Linked DNA regions of Homo sapiens: region 1 is linked to region 2. Evidence: fine-mapped expression QTL. A gene starts in region 2. The other region holds a variant in brackets. All regions are shown on one strand. Distances are between the middles of the regions.

Region 1 (8,127 bases), 23 kb after region 2:
AATTCCACTGACAGTTATTTATTTATGCATTCATCCATTCATTCATTTTTTCATTCATGACCCTGAAGATATTTTAGGATCTTAGGATCTATAGAAATAGCACTATAAGATTTCTGAGTCATAGAATGCCAGATAAATTTATTCTTTTTTGTTATGATTTATTTGAAAACTATAAGGATGAAAAATGAAGTGCTTATCATTCATAGTCTTATTATCCAGAAATAACCACTGTAAAAGTTTAGATCAATCCATTTGTATTTGTACATTTGCTTTTGGGATAGTTAAGGGGATATGAGAGTAAAAGATACAGTGTAATTTGCAAATTACCTAAAAAGATTAGATAGTGCTAGTAGGTAATTACAAAATAATAAAAGTATGTAAGGGTTTTAGAGGGAGAAATGAGTAAAAGCAGGAGTGGTTGGGAAATGCTTCCTGGACAAGGTGGGATATGAACTAAAGGATTTGGTATTTGGCTGAACGAGGGAAGATAAAAGATGTTCCAGTGAGAAGATAGTTATGAATGAAGGTCTAAAATTTCAGCAATAAGCTTGGCTTTGTGCAGGAGAGAAGTTGTTGGTTTGATTTTAATGAGAATGCTTGTTTGGAGATGAAATTGGTGAGACACAAGAAAGCTGAATAACCACAGGCTTCTTTTGAAATCAGAAAGGATTTTGTTTTTATTTTTTTTTTTGGAGACAGAAAGGTTTAAATTGGAATTTGTGGGAAATGGGGACCCAATGAAGATTTTGATGATGGTGATAACTTCCATTTAATGTGAGCTTTTAGTATGTCTGGCACTGTGCTAAGTACTGTACTTTACATATACTACTTGTCTTGTATGTAAGTCCATTTTGTGTTGCTATAACAGAATACCTGAGACTGGGTAACTTACAAAGAGGTTTGTTTAGCTCATGATTCTGCAGGCTAGGAGTGGGGCATGGCCCTGGCTTCTGCAGAGGGCTTTTATGCTGCATCATCACGTGGCAGACAAGGTCAAAGGGGAAGTGGACTCCTGTGAGGAGAGAGACCAAACAGGAGGGGAAGCCTCGCTTTATAATAACACACTCCAGGAACTAATCCATTCCCTCTGGCAAGAACTCACTGTTGCAAAAGGAGAATAGCACCAAGCCATTCATGAGGGATCCACCCCCATGAGTTAAATGCTGCCCACCAGGCCTCATCTTCCAGCTCCACCACAGTGGGGATAAAATTTCAGTACGAGTTTTGGTGGAACAAACCAACTATATCCAAACCATAGCACTGCCTCATTTAATGTTTACCAATTTTTTGAGTGATTCATCCTTTCATTCAGTAATTTACCACCTGCTATGTGCCGTGCCAAATACATAGTAATAAAGTGCTAGCAGTTTATTATCCTTAATTTGAAGATGAGGAAATTTAGGCACAGGAAGGTTAAGTAACTTACCCAGTGAAGGTAAATGAGGTTTTTTTTTTTTTTTTTTTTTTTTTGGTTTTTGAAGATATAGTAGTTGGAGAGGCTAATAAGGGGCCTTCTGCACTAATTCCACTTTATTTTTTAAATTGGGGGGAAAAAGTATTGAGAAACAGATTATATGAACGGATTAGATTGAGGAAGTGACGGAAAGGTAGAGAGGAAGGGATAAATGTATAACCTTTGTAATGTGGTATGGCCCCACGAGTTACTAAACATGACTGAATTGATGAAAGATTCATAACATATTTGTAAAGCGAAATTCTCAATAATAAAGCCTCCTTTCCAACTTGATTGCTCAATATAGATAGGATTTTATTCTTAAAGGAAAAATCCTCATTTTGCAGGCAGAATAAGCCGGGATACCTACAATTAGTTTTTCTGTCTGGGGCCACCAGTTAACTGGGATGTTTTTTCTGTTTTTCTCTTTCCTTCCACAAATAATAATCTGTTAAAGTCTTTGAATTTACATGTATGTGTAAAATAATTATTTTGTCATATTTAGAAGTGTAGTACAATATTTTGATAAGATTAAATATAATGTGAATGTCAAATGTTGATTTAAAGGGACATAACCTATTTCTTAGTTATATCGCTACCCTTTACTGGAGCACAAAATAAATGGTGTTTTGGGTGAATATATAGTTTTGAGACTGAATCTTAGTTTTTATTACTTGTGGTAAGAATTGAGCAAAATTAAATTTTTATAACTATTGGATATATTAATATGGTAAATTGGAATTTTAGATTACAGGAAAAAATTGAGAAACAGATTATGTGAAAGCATTATGTTGAAGAATTATGTGTGTTTATTCTGTTATCTAATAAGTATTGTGCTTAAGAAAAAATGTAATATTTAAAGGATGTAGAGTTTTTGTTTCATAAGATGAGCATTCTGAAGATCGATGGCACAGCAATGTGAATGTACTTCACACTGAACTGCACCCTTCAAAAAGATTCAGATGATAAACTTTATGTTATATGTATTTAACTACAATGAAAATGTTATTTAAGACCCCCCCACAGCCATACAGTGTACAATACAAAGAATGAACTCTAATGTAGAATATGGACCTTAGTCAATAATAATATATTCATATTGATTCATCAGTTATAAAAAATATACCACACTAAAGCAAGATGTTAAAAATAGTAGGAACTGACTAGGGAAGAGGGTATATGGAAATCTCTACTTTCTGCTCAACTTTTCATAAACCTAAAACTAAAAAAGTCTATTAATTAAAAAAAAGAAAAATGTAGTAAGAGACAAATCATAGTTTTTTTTTTTGGTTTGTTTTGCTTTGGTGTTAGGTATCAGGAAATGTAATGACTTGCTTATTTGCAGAGTTTAATTAAAAAGGAAACAGTTTTTTATAACAGCCTTTCTAAGGGTTCACAGTGCTCTTAAATTACAAGATTTGGCAGAGAGGAATTAGAAGATCATAGGAGAAGAGGTAAGGCCCAAAACAAATTGGCAGAGAGTGAGTGACAACCCTGTGGTTTGTTTATAAATAGCTGTGCTAATTAAAATGAGAACTGGTGTATTCCATGTTTCTGTTTTTTTTTTTTTTTTTTTTTTTTGATGCAGGGTCTTGCTCTGTTGCCCAGGCTGGAATGCAGTGGTGCAATCGTGGCTCACTGCAGGCTTGACTTCCTGGGCTCAAGTGATCCTCCTGCCTCCGCCTCCCGAGTAGCTGGAACTATATAGGGAAGCACCACCATGCCAGGCTAATTTTTTAATTTCTTGTGGAGCTGGAGACTTGCGGTATTACCCAG[C/G]CTGGTTATTTTTTCACTTTTTATAACCTTACTTCTTGTGATACCAGGATAGGGTGCTTCCTCTGTTGCCATCTGCTTTAGTAATCTGACTTAAACATTTTTTTTTGATTTGTTTTAGATACAGGATCTGGCTCTCTTGCCTAGGTTGGACTGTAGTGCCATGATCGTAGCTCACTGCAGTCTCAAACTCCTAGGCTCAAGTGATCCTCCTGCCTCTGCCTCCGGAGTAGCCAGACTACAGGCGTGTGCCACCATGCCTGGCTAATTTTTACATTTTTTGTAGAGATAAGGACTCACCGTGTTGCCCAGGCTGGCCTCAACCTCCTGGCCTCAAGTGATCACCCCGCCTTGGCCTCCCAAAGTCTTGGGATTACAGGCATGAGCCACCACACCCAGCCTGCCATTTTCTGATAATTGCCTGAATCTTAAAATTTGAAAAGGATTTCATAAGTCCTCTATAAAATTTAACCTACCCAAAGTAGCATCCTTACCTGATGCTCATTCAGTTTCTCCTTTTGAACATGCAGGGACTGGACACACATTGTTTTAGGAAGTTGTCCATTCCTATCACAGAATATCCTTACTTGTTATTACACAGTTCTTCCTTATTAAGCTAACATCTTTGTCTTTATTACTTCTATCATTGCTCTTACTTGTCCCCCAGTGCAACACTGATAAAGGCTAAAATTAAAGATCCACTCTCAGTTACCTGTTGTTTTTCTCCAGGCCAGCATTCCAATTATTTTAACTATTCTTCTTACAGGAGACATTTGTTATTCCCACTACTATCCCCCCAAACACATTTCCAATTTCTTTCAAAATAGAGCCCATAAAGTTGAACATCATATTTCAAAAGGAGCCTAAGTAATATAGAACACCGTGGGTCTGTTAATTTTTGTGAGACTATTCATTATGTTAATTTGATCAAAGATTATATATGTTCTTTAGCAGCCATATCATTTTTAGGGCCATACTGAACTTTTATTAGACTAAAGTCTATGAGTCACTTTCTTGTAGGTTGTGGTTCAGCTGGAATCTTATACCTCTACAATTGATTTAAATGATTTGAACATTATTTGTTAAATATTTAGTTTAATATTTAGGAACAATTGTATAGTGTTTTAAAGAACACGATAATCTGTATAATCCCATTTGGTTCTCATAACAACCCCTTTGAGCTAAGTAAAAGCATATTATCTTCTCCATCATATAGATGAGGAAACTCATAGCCAGAGAGACTGACTTGTTAATAAGGTCGCCTAACTGGAGAGTGGTTGGACTGGCACTGAGACTAGATCTCAGGCCTTATGACTCCACATTCTGTGTTTTATTGTTGTTGTTGTTGTTATTTTGTGTTAGCCGTAGATATTTCTAAGTAAATTAAGACATTGTGGCTTTTGCCTGCTCCCAGTGAGGGGTGATTGGGGTTTTGGTGATGAGCTCCCAGAAAGGCAACGTGCCTCATTCCAGGCCTCAGAAGCACCAGAATATATTTAGCTTCAAAAATGACAAGTTCAACTGGGCATGGTGGCTCACGCCTATAATCCTAGCACTTTGGAGGCTGAGGTGGGTGGATCACTTGTGGTCAGGCGTTCGAGACCGGCCTTACCAACATGGTGAAACTCTATCTCTACTAAAAATAAAAAATTAGCCAGGCATGGTGGTGCCTGCCTGTAATCCCAGCTACCCGGGGGGCTGAGGCAGGAGAATGGCTTAAACCCGGGAGTCAGAGGTTGCAGTGAGCTGAGATTGTGCCACTGTACTCCAGCCTGGGCGACAGAGCAAGACTCTGCCTCAAAAAAAAAAAAAAAAAGTTTGATAAGCATGTTTAGACCAAGAAAAGTAACACAAAACCATGGTGCGGCTGGGCGCGGTGGCTCACGCCTGTAATCCCAGCACTTTGGGAGGCCAAGGCAGGTGGATCTCCTGAGGTCAGGAGTTGGAGACCAGCCTGACCAACATGGTGAAACCCTGTTTCTACTAAAAATACAAAAATTAGCCAGGTGTGGTGGTGGGTGCCTGTAATCCCAGCTACTCGGGAGGCTGAGGCAGGTTCACTTGAACTTGGGAGGTGGAGGTTGCAGTGAGCCGAGATCGCACCACTGCACTCCAGCCTGGGTGACAGAGCGAGACTCAGTCTCAAAAAAAAAAACCCTCCTGATGGAGTATGTCAGCGCTGTAAAGAAGTTCTTGAGTGGCATGTAAAATATAGCAAATACAAACCATTATCCAACCTAAAAAATGTGTTAAATGTTTACAAAAGACAGTGGAGGATTCTTATCTCATAACGTGTAGACCATGTGCCTATGAACTTGAAGTTTGCGCAAAATGTGGGAAGAAGAAGACATTGCTATTCTGTTCAATAAAGAACCAGGAAAAACAGAGAATATTGAAAATAATCTAAGTTCCAACCATAGAAGAAGCTGCAGAAGAAGTGAAGAAAGTGATGATGATTTGGATTTTGATATTGGTTTAGAAAACACAGGAGGAGACCCTCAAGTGAATTAATATTACTGTATTAAAAGTCAGTTTAAATTAGCCGGGTGTGGTGGCGCATGCCTGTAATCCTAGCTACTCGGAAGGCTGAGGCAGGAGAATCCCTTGAACCCTGGAGGCAGAGGTTGCAGTGAGCCGAGATCGCACCATTGCACTCCATTTTGGACAGCAAGAGCGAGGCTCAGTCTCAAAAAAAAAAAAAAGTCAATTTAAGAATGTGAAATTCTGACCAACTTCTGACTATTTCACAAAAGATACTGTGAAATCCTAATGAGGAAATCAGAAAAACCTTTAGAAAAGTAGACAAATTTTAGACACGAACAATATAAATTGTGTATGATGTATTATCTAATACCAAACTAAACCAGATTCAGAATTGATGGTTGTATAAGAAAGGAACCACCTCATGTAAAAATAAAATGACATTATTATATTGCTAGCCTCAAAAATTGGTCCTCAGTAAGTGCCTTTTGGTAAATGATCTCAAGTAAATGACTCATAGCAAAAGCCTCATACTTATGTTTGCATGTTAAAAAGCAGAAGCAGCATTCTCAAATACTAATGTTTAACAAGTGTATGGCGATTTTTATTTGTATTTTTATATACCTCATCACATTGTTTTTACCTTTTTTCTCGTGAAATGTGCACACAGAAAAAAATGCATAGAATTTATATAGATAATTTAATAAATATAAAGAAAAGTTCATGCATTTATACAGCCAGGTGAAGAAACTGCCGGCATCAGAAGATCCCAGCAAGGCTCTCGTTCAGCAAAAGCTCATCTTTCTTCCCAGAGTTGGAAATTATTCTGAATTTTGATAATTATAGTCTTAATTCTTTTACTACCCATGTTTCTGTTCCTAAACGATATAAATTAGCTTTGTCTGGTTTTTTAACTTTCCTCTTTTTGTTTTGAAAAATATCAATTGAAAATATCAATCAGAAAAGGTAGCAAAATAGTTCTGTGAACTTTTGCGTATTCTTCACCTGGATTCCCAATTGTTAACATTTTACCACGTTTTCTTTATATCTCAGTAGATGGATGTACACACATATTTTATTTGCTGAACCATTTGAAAATGTGCACTGGTTTTGAACTTTGTATGAACAGACTTATACTATATATGTTATTTTATATCTCTTTTTTCATTGTTATAAAATTTGTTGAGATTGATTAAAAAAGACATTGTGAATAGGATTTTTAATCACCATTCCATCCTCCCCAGTGAGCTGGCAACATTTTGTTTCTTTTAGGGACTGTGATTGGGTCTAGTCTCAATTCATTTCCATGTTCATCCTGCATTCAGCTGATCATCTGTTGTGAAATACCACATTATTCTTGTTGATTCTCTTTGAAAGAATAACATGGGGAGTATCTCTGTTTGCATTTTACATTTTACCGTAAGGACTTAAGGATTTATTCTGCAAGGATCTCAATTTTATGCAATAGCTTGTTATTAGGACTTAGTTATTTCTTTTTCTCTATATTTGCCTTCCATTTATTTTAACTGCTGTTGCTTCTTGTTACCTTATCACTGACTTTGTTGTCTTTTCCAATACTGCTTCAGAATCTAATAGTTCTAAATGATTTAAAATAATGATAATAGTAAGAACTGATATGTTATTTACCAGGTACTGTTACGAATGCTTTGTTATGTATTAACTCATTTAGTCCTTAGAACAACCAGGTAAGGATAGGTACTATTGTTATCTTCATTTTAAACTGAATCAAGGAGAAGTCAGCCCAGTTGCCCAAGGTCACTTAACTGGTGGTAGAGTAGGGGTTTAAGAGACTAAAACTCATACTGTAAACTACTATGTTAAATCACCTCTCGCTAGCTAAGCTGCTCTCTTCATCACTTATAAATTTCTTTCTGAGGGCTTCTTTTCCTATACCTGTGACAATTAACATTTTATCCTTGTTTAATCTTATGTATTTCAGCTCTTAGTTATAACTTATTAATCTTTTTGAGTTAAAGTCTTCCTTTTTTATTCAAAAACACTTGACTGCTTTCACTGAGAGCATGGAGTCAAGAGCATCTTTAGTCTGTCTGGGGTAGTTTGCAGTACCTTCAAAAAGGGTATAGTTTTTGAGCCTTGAAGAATGAATGCACATTTTCAAGACCAAAGGAAAAAAGAAGCCATTTCAGGTTGAGGGGTTAGCATGTTCACTTGCTCAGAGGTGAAAGAACATTCCACCTTTGAGGAACTGCAAGTGAGTTCATTTGACAAGAAGTGCAAATTTTATCTAAAGGTAATTGGAAATGATTGAAGAATTTTAACATGGAAGTGACACCAGATTCATGCCTGAAAGGTCGATCTCAAAGCACTGTGGTCCTTTGAAAGGAGTGAAAGCTGAACTAGAAGAGAGATTGGTTATGGAGCTATCCCAGTGATTTAGT
Region 2 (8,127 bases):
TCAGGAGACAATCATAGAGAAGATGGTCTTTGAGTTGAGTACTGAGATCTTGGTGGGAAATATAATGTGGTAATCAAGAGAATAGACTAACCAGATAGCCAGACTATCAGGTTTCAAATCCTAGCTCTGCTACTTGCTAGCTAGGGAATCTCTTTTTTTTTTTCTTTGAGGTGGAATCTCATTCTTCTTGCCCAGGCTGGAGTGCAGTGGCGCGATCTCAGCTCACTGCAACCTCTGCCTCCAGGGTTCAAGCGATTCTCCTGCCTCAGCCTCCGGACTAGCTGGGATTGCAGGCATGCGCAACCATGCCCGGTTAATTTTAGTAGAGATGGGATTTCGCCATGTTGGCCAGGCTGGTCTCGAACTCCTGAACTTAAGTTATCTGCCCGCCTTGGCATCCCCAAGTGCTGGGATTACAGGCGTGAGCCACTGCGCCTGGCCTAGCTAGGGAATTTTAGGCATATTATTTAATCTCTCTGTGCTTCCATTTTCCCCTTTGTAGGATGGGCGTAATAGCTGGGCATGCTCATAGGGTAGAAGTGAGGTTATATGAGTTAGTATGTGTCGCAGTGAGGATTACATAAATTAGTATGTGTCATGGGCTCAGTCAGTATTAGCTAGGAGGCCAGGGATAGGAGAATTGGAGAAAGCAAGGAAACATGCAGAGGTATGGCAGTCTTGGTTTGTGAAAACTGAAATATGAGGTGCATTTGGGTGGAGGGTGGTGGAAAATGGCAATGGGAATGGATAGATCAGAGGAGAGAACTTTAATGCCATTCCAGAGGCTCATGCTTATGCAGCTCTTGGAGAATTTTACGGACAAATTCACATTTGCATTATAGAAAGACAACTATGGAGCAGTGGAGAAGGAGTAGAGGCTGGAAGATTAGGTAAGAAGTTACTGATGAGGAGAGATGATAAAGAATTGGCTGGCCAGGCGCGGTGGCTCACGCCTGTGATCCCAGTACTTTGGGAGACCGAGGTGGGGCAGATCATGAGGTCAGGAGTTCGAGACCAGCCTGACAAACATGGTGAAACCCTGTTTCTATTAAAAATGCAAAAAGTAGCTGGGCATGGTGGCACACATCTGTAATCCCAGCTACTCGGTGGGGGCTGAGACAGGAGAATCGCTTGAACCTGGGAGGCGGAGGTTGCAGTGAGCTGAGATTGCGCCATTGTACTCCAGCCTGGGTGACAGAACTAGACTCCATCTCAAAAACAAACAAAAAAATACAACAACAAAAAGAATTGGCTAAGAAATAGAAGGCAGGGTGCAGATTTAAAAGTCATTTAGGAGGGAAAACTGGTGAGATGCGGAGTAAGGGGATGAGGCAGGAAGAGTGGTGGATGATTCTTAGATTTCTAGTTTGGATGATTTGATAAAAGGCAGGAGGAAAAGTGGGTTTGGGGATAAAGTTTTAGATTTGGTGAGCTTGATGGACCTGTGAAATGACCAGAATGAGTGTTTAGGCCTGTCACTTGGGGACTGGAAGTCAAGATTTGAGATTCCTCTTGATATGGGCAGTAGTTGACGTGGGAATGTGAGTGACAGCGTGACACAGGCTGTATACAGAAGGACGTTCAGGAATGGTCAGGAAAGCCTAAATTGAGTACAGCCAGCAAAGGAGAGTGGTCAGAGTAAAGAGGAGATGCAGGAGAAGGTGGAGTCATGGAAAATGAACAGGAAATTCAAGGAGGAAGTGTCCAAACGCAGGCGAGAGGTCAATTAGAATAACTAAGGCCTGTACCTTGGTAGAGCTTAGGAAAACCCACAAACGATTATTTCAATGGAGTAGAACAGATTGGAGTAAGAGATACAGTGAATCCTCCTCATTAACGCCCTAGGTGTTAATACTTTAGGTCAAAAGCTAGGTGAATTCCTGGAGAACCTCCGTGGATGTAGTCCAGTTTCAGGCTTGCTGCATGAGGCAGATCTGGCTTCTCCTTGCAGGACTATTTACCCAGAGCCCAGCAAGGAGCTTGGCACATTCACATGCATTCTTTAAATATTGGGGGAAAGAATGGATGAACGGTTTGTGGCCGCCAGAAACCTGCCTTGGTACAGCGCTGGGCGCTCCCAGTACATGGCTAGCTCCAGGAAGTTAGGAGGCCTTTGGGAGTTACCAAAGAAGTTCTGTTGTTTTGGTAAGAACAAATTCATTAGTTATAGGGTTGATCTGGTCGTTTAATGCCTGTGCTGGTGATGATGGTGATAACGGGTCTACTCAGGTGGGTCCTGTTCTGAAACGTAGGTAAGCTCTTGGTACAGTTTCAGATGTGACTTTCTGAGTGAGTTTGCTTTCTTAGCTGTTTTATTTCCTTCCTGTGTGAAGGTGTCTTATCTCTCCAACTGGATACTACATTTCTGAAGGGCAAGGACCACTTACTCCACAGGAGTCTTCTGTCCTCCTTGCAGCACGAATTTGTCCACTTGATCCTCAGCTCAGAATCCTAGTGCTCCTCAGCCTCAGTTGATTTAACGCCCAGGGCAGGTCACACCTGGACTGTCCGCCCTGCGTGACTAGACCCTCAGTGAAAAAATGTGTAGTTGCTTCCCGAAACTTATCCTGGGCGGGCCGAACTGAGGGGATACTGAGAGCTAGCAGTAGGCAGGCAACCTGGACTCCCGCAGCCCGGCCTTGGGTCTCAGTGCACCCCACCCCATCTCACTATAGGGTTACCCCAACTGTCTCCCAGTAGACAGGTCTGGGGAGAGCCTGGTCCTCACTAATGGAGTGACAGCCACCGCAGGGGGGGGACTAAGGTCTCCCCTGGGATGCCCACGCGAGGGAACTGATGTAGGTCTGATACTGAGATTGGGGGGAAAAAGAAGAAAACACGGGGCAGGGGGAGGTGTTTCCACTATCTTCTCCCTTTTTTTGATACTGATGGGGAGGGGAGGTCTGGGATGGATGAAGCTCCTCAACCATCCGTTTCAGCCGCCCCCAGCTGCTCAACTTATCCGCCGCCGCTCGTGCCCGCTTCCAGCCTGCGTAGACCCGGCCGTGGTCGTCCGGAAGGAACCGCGTAGGAAACGGAGGTGGGGTGTCCCCCGGCGCCCCCACCAGAGACCGCCCGGCGCGGCAGGAGGATGTCGGCGCGCGGAGGGCTTGCGTCGCCCGCCCCTCCCCCGCCGCGCCCCCCGCCCCCGCCCACTCCCCGGGGGACCCCCGCGCCCGGGGGAAGCCCCGCGCGGGGCGCCCTCCGCCTGCCTCCGTCCCTCCGCCTCCCCGAGGTCCGGGGCTGCCTCCTCGGGCCGCGCCGGGCCGCCCCGCACTGCGCATGAGCGGGAGCCGGGCAAGCCCGTGAGAGGAGCCGCCGCCGCCGCCGCCGTCCATTCGCTGCGGAGCCGGAGGAGGAGGGGAGAGGCCTGGAGGACACCAACATGGTGAGGCACTGCGGCCGCCCGCCCGCCCTGCCGGCTGGGGGCCGGCGCTGCCGCGCACCCCCGCCCCGGCCGCCCTCCGTCCCGCGGCGACCCTGCAGCCCCGAGCCTCGGCCCGCGGCCTCCGTCCCGCTCCCAGGCGGGGGCTCTCCTGCCTGCCTCTCCCTTCCTCCTTCGCCCCTTCCCGCCCGGGCGCAGCCGCTACGCGAGAGCCGAGGAGGCGGAGCGGAGCCGGGCCTAGTCGGGAGCCCCGGGGAGTTTGGGGCGCGGGGAGCGGCCCCGGTGCCCCTTGCCGGGGCCCGGCGCGGGTGGGGGAGGCGTTGGGGCGGGGGGAGGGGAGGGGGCAACGGCCTTGCCCCTGCCCCTCTGCCGGCTCCATTGTGTCTGGTCGGGGACTGGGGTCTGGGGTTCCGGGTGAGTAGCCTCCCCCCGCCCCGAAGCCGGGGCTTCCCTCTCCGCCCGGCCGGGGAGAAGGAAAGACTTTCCCGGCGCGCCTCTCCCTCCTCCGCTCCCGGCTCCAATACCCCGCAAGTCTCCCAGGCAGTTTTGCTTGGGGCGGGGTATCAGCCCTTTTCCTTTCTCCATCACCTCTCGAGGCGTCCCATGCTTTTGGAGAAGGAGAGTTTCCCCGGCCAGTTGGTGGAGGTTATATTTACCTCTCTACTGAAAACATGGGAGACTGCTGAGCTTGGGGGAGGGGGTACGGAAGTGCAACCTGTTCTCATTTCATAAAATTAGGGAACACAGACTAGCGAGCGCCCTTTCGAGCACCTATTTTATTTGCTTGGGGGTGGGAGGAGTAATTGCTTTATTATAGTAGTTAAGGGCCATTTGTGATTTTTTTTAAAACAGTTTGTCAAGTTACTCTCCTTTTTTGTTTGGGGGGGGGAAAAAGTCCTCTCCAGGCTTGCAGACCCTTGTGGTCGAGTTGTTTACTTTGGTAATTAAGTACCTGACTCTGCTGGACGCTCTTCGCGTTTCAGAAGCGCTGTTTGGCATTGTACAGTCTGAGCGTGAGTTGAATTCCGTGCAGGTTACTGTATGAATAGTAAAAATGATATTGTTGTCCTTTGCTCGTGGGGAACATAAAGGCCTCTTTGAGGAGGGTGTGTGTGCGCGCCTGTGTTAAGGGAATGCTCCAGTGTCTTTGTTTTTAGTTGGTCTTATTTTTGCTGAATGACACTTCTAGTCCCATCCTCCAGCTTGGCAGTATTTTGTTGTCATGTATGGATATATGGTTTAGTCTGACACATATTTAACACTTATGTTCTGTGGCAAGTTGTGTAGGAATTTACAGTTTGAATTGGTAAGAAAACTTTAAAGTGCAGGTTAATGTATAGATTAGTATTACAGTGTTCAGAGATCCACCAGGCAGTCTAAACAGTTTCTAGTTTCTTAAGTATTTAGATGGTCATAGACATTACTCCTGAAGTTTCCAGACTCTTAGCATTTAGATAAGTATAGTAAGCTCGAAGTAATGACGTTAATTCCCTGGGAAACACTCAGCCACAGCTGAAATGTGTGCTCTTCAGGATGGTCTCCAGATCCGCATCATCCCCTAGACAGTGGGGTCCCGGAAATACTCATCACCTGTTCAGGAATTCAGGCATCAAGTGGTTCGTAGGGAGAGTTCAGCTTGTAAGCTTCTATTCTTTTGGTTAATATTAAAATTAGCTAGTTTTGAAACTTAGCCATAACCCATGTAATTCTACCAGTGGTGACAAGATATTAATTTAAAACATATCCTGTGGCTGAACTCAGTTTATGTCATGAGAATTGTCGTGATATTCTCTGGTTTAGCTAACTCACCGTAGGGGCTGGGCACGGTGGCTCATGCCTGTAATCCCAGCACCCTGGGTCACCGAAGCAGGAGGATTGCTTGAGAGCCTAGGAGTTTGAGACCAGCCTGCGCAACATAGTAGTGAGACTCCATCCCAAGGAAAAAAAATAGCCAAGCATGCTGGTGCTAGCCTGTGGTTGCCCCTACTCCAGAGGATGAGGTGGGAGGATTACTTGAGCTGGGAGGTTGAGGCTGCTGTGAGCCCTGCCACTGCACCACTCCAGCCTGGCTAACAGACCTTGTCTCTTAAAAAAAATAATAAGAAAGGAAAGAGACTCACCACTGGCCCTAATCGAAGTTAGGCAGTAAGAATTTTATAGTTAAGAAGTTGTTTCATTATAAAGTTATCTTACATATATTTGTTTCTTTATGCAGTTTCGGGGCTGTGAGTTTTTTGGTGTCTGTAGCTGCAGCCCATTTCCAGAGCACATGTTATTGTCAGTTCTAGAGCAAACTTAAATGATGGGATATTTGAAATACTTTGTATAAGTAAAAAAGTTCTGTTAACTTCCTCCCTCCCCCCACACACAGACTAAAAACGACTCCAAAATTAGATAATATTCTGTTACTTTGGAACTTGTTTTTTGTTGTTGTTGTTTTTTTTTTTTTGAGATGGAGTTTTTGCTCTGTTGCCCAGGCTGGAGTGCAGTGGTGCAATCTTGGCTCACTGCAACCCGTGCCTCCTGGGTTCAAGCGATTCTCCAGCCTAAGCCTCCCAAGTAGCTGGGATTATAGGTGCCCGCCAACATACCCGGCTGATTTTTGTATTTTTAGTAGAGACGAGGTTTCACTATGTTGACCTGGCTGGTCTCGAACTCTTGACTTCAGGTGATCCACCTGCCTCGGCCGCCCAAGGTGCTAGGATTACAGGCGTGAGCCACCACGCCAGCCTGAAACATATTTTTAAAAAGTGTTCGGCTGAGTGCAGTGGCTCACGCCTGTAATCCCAGCACTTTGGGAGGCCAAGGTGGGCGGATCACAAGGTCAAGAGTTTGAGACCAGCCTGGCCAATACGGTGAAACCCCGTCTCTACTAAAAATACAAAAATTAGCCAGGCGTGGTGGTGGGGGCCTGTAGTCTCAGCTACTCAGGAGGCTGAGGCGGGAGAATCACTGGAACCCAGAGGAGGAGGTTGCAGTGAGCCGAGATCGCGTCATTGCACTCCAGCCTGGGCGAGAGCGAGACTCCGTCTCAAAAAAAAAAAAGTGTTCAAAACGTGTGGGTTGTTTTATTTATAAGATGGCAGGATTGGACTTGATGATTTCTAAAGTTTCATCCAGCATAGACATTTTATGATTCTAATGATTTTTAGACTCATAGCATCATAGAATTTTTAGACCTGAAATAGACTCAGAGATCATCTAATTACTCCTCCCCATTTTTACACAAGAAGAAATTGAATATCAAGGAGGTTTTGAGGTTCAGGTTTGCAGGATTGTTGGTTGCAGAACTGAAACTATTTTCTCCTGGTCTACCATTTCCCCCAGTATTATCTGTTAACTCATATGAAATCCAGAAAATTACATTTGAAATTAAATCATATCCATCACTTAAACACAGGAAACCCCATGTTATTTATGAATATGTTAAGTAACAAAATTCATATTAATGGGTGATCAATGATGTTAATGCCTATGTTTTCAATGGCTTTAAATATATATGAACTTTGAAATTTAAGATTATGTTGTCAACAAATACTAGAATTTGTAAATTCAAATACATGTAGGTCTATTCAAGGTTGTCTTTTCATAACTTGTTGCACATTCTTTGCATGTCTACAAATAAAGGAGGTTATCAGTTCTTTTCAGTGATTATTATACGTCTGCTGTGTGCTAGAGATAGTGTTAGGCACTGAAGGGATGTATATATCACAGAAGAGACAAAAATCCTCACTCTGGTGAGGGGTACCTTTTAGTAGGGAGACATAAATAATAAACATAGTATATAGTTTTCTTCTTTACTATGTTAGAAGGTGTTAAGTGCTGTGGGAGAAAGCAGTGTTAGGGAAGGGGATTGGGGGTGCTAGGGCATTGATGGAAGTAGGGTTGCTAAATATCTGTATCACCAATGAGATAATTTTGAACAGAGTAGGGGATGAGGGAATAAGCCATGCAGAAATGTAGAAATCTTGAGGAACAGTGAGACCAATGTGGCTGGAGCAGTGTGTGTGTGTGTGTGTGTGTGTGTGTGTGTGTGTGTGTGTGTATGTATGTATATGTACATGTGTATATACAGGGGGTCGTTGGAGCAGATGAGGCCTAGGTGGCAAGGAGTGGGGGTAGGCATGGGTGGACACTGTAAGGATACTGGGCTTTTATCCTAGAGAAATGGAAATCCATTGAAGGATTCTGAGTGGTACGATATACCTTGTTTTTTTTTGTTCCATAGTGTCCTGTGACAGTATTACAGATAATTATTTTTAAAAGCAGTTTTTTCAGAAGACCCTTATTACAGTTTTCTTTACCATGCAGCTTCTATGTACAGAGTTTTGAATTCTGTTTAAGATGACTGTCTAATGTTCAATAAAAACTAATGGATTATCAAGTATACCTAGCCACACTAGGGTTAATAAAAACACAACCAAACCTCTTTGATAGATTGTTGAATATGTTCTAGTGGTTTATATGTAGTTCAGTGACTATATGCAGAAAACTGGGCCTTTGGGGACAAAGAAACGAAATTAACATTTATCGAGAAGGTACACTCTACTAGTCAGACAATTTACAATTGTCATTAATCTCCACTCCCACTTCTGAAATAGGCATTATTACTACTTTTTTTTTTTTTTTTTTTTTTTTAGCATATCTGGGAATGAAGGCTTAGCGATTCTAAATGATTTCATGCTAGTATGTGGCAGAGCAGGGGTTAGGACCCTGGTCTCTGGTTCCACACTTTTATCTCC

Evidence for each region. PIP is the estimated chance that this variant, and not a neighbour inherited with it, causes the effect. A credible set is the group of variants that fine-mapping cannot tell apart.
Region 1: its variant is the best candidate, but not a certain one, in a credible set for the expression of DCUN1D1 in whole blood (TOPMed, PIP 0.53).

Annotation. Positions count from the first base shown.
Region 1 is chr3:182,952,845-182,960,971 of GRCh38, reverse strand. The region is part of intron 4 of DCUN1D1 (defective in cullin neddylation 1 domain containing 1); the gene reads left to right. It also overlaps the pseudogene C9orf85P2. Among named protein-coding and RNA genes, the nearest start is that of DCUN1D1, 24 kb to the left of the region's middle. The variant C/G (reference allele first, on the strand shown) is at 3,230.
Region 2 is chr3:182,975,748-182,983,874 of GRCh38, reverse strand. DCUN1D1 (defective in cullin neddylation 1 domain containing 1) reads left to right here and starts at 3,337. Exons shown (of 7, transcript NM_020640.4): 1 at 3,337-3,388. The coding sequence starts at 3,386. LOC105374246 (a long non-coding RNA gene) reads right to left here and starts at 3,068. Exons shown (of 2, transcript XR_924771.2): 1 at 2,388-3,068. RefSeq lists silencers at 3,049-3,488, 3,549-3,668.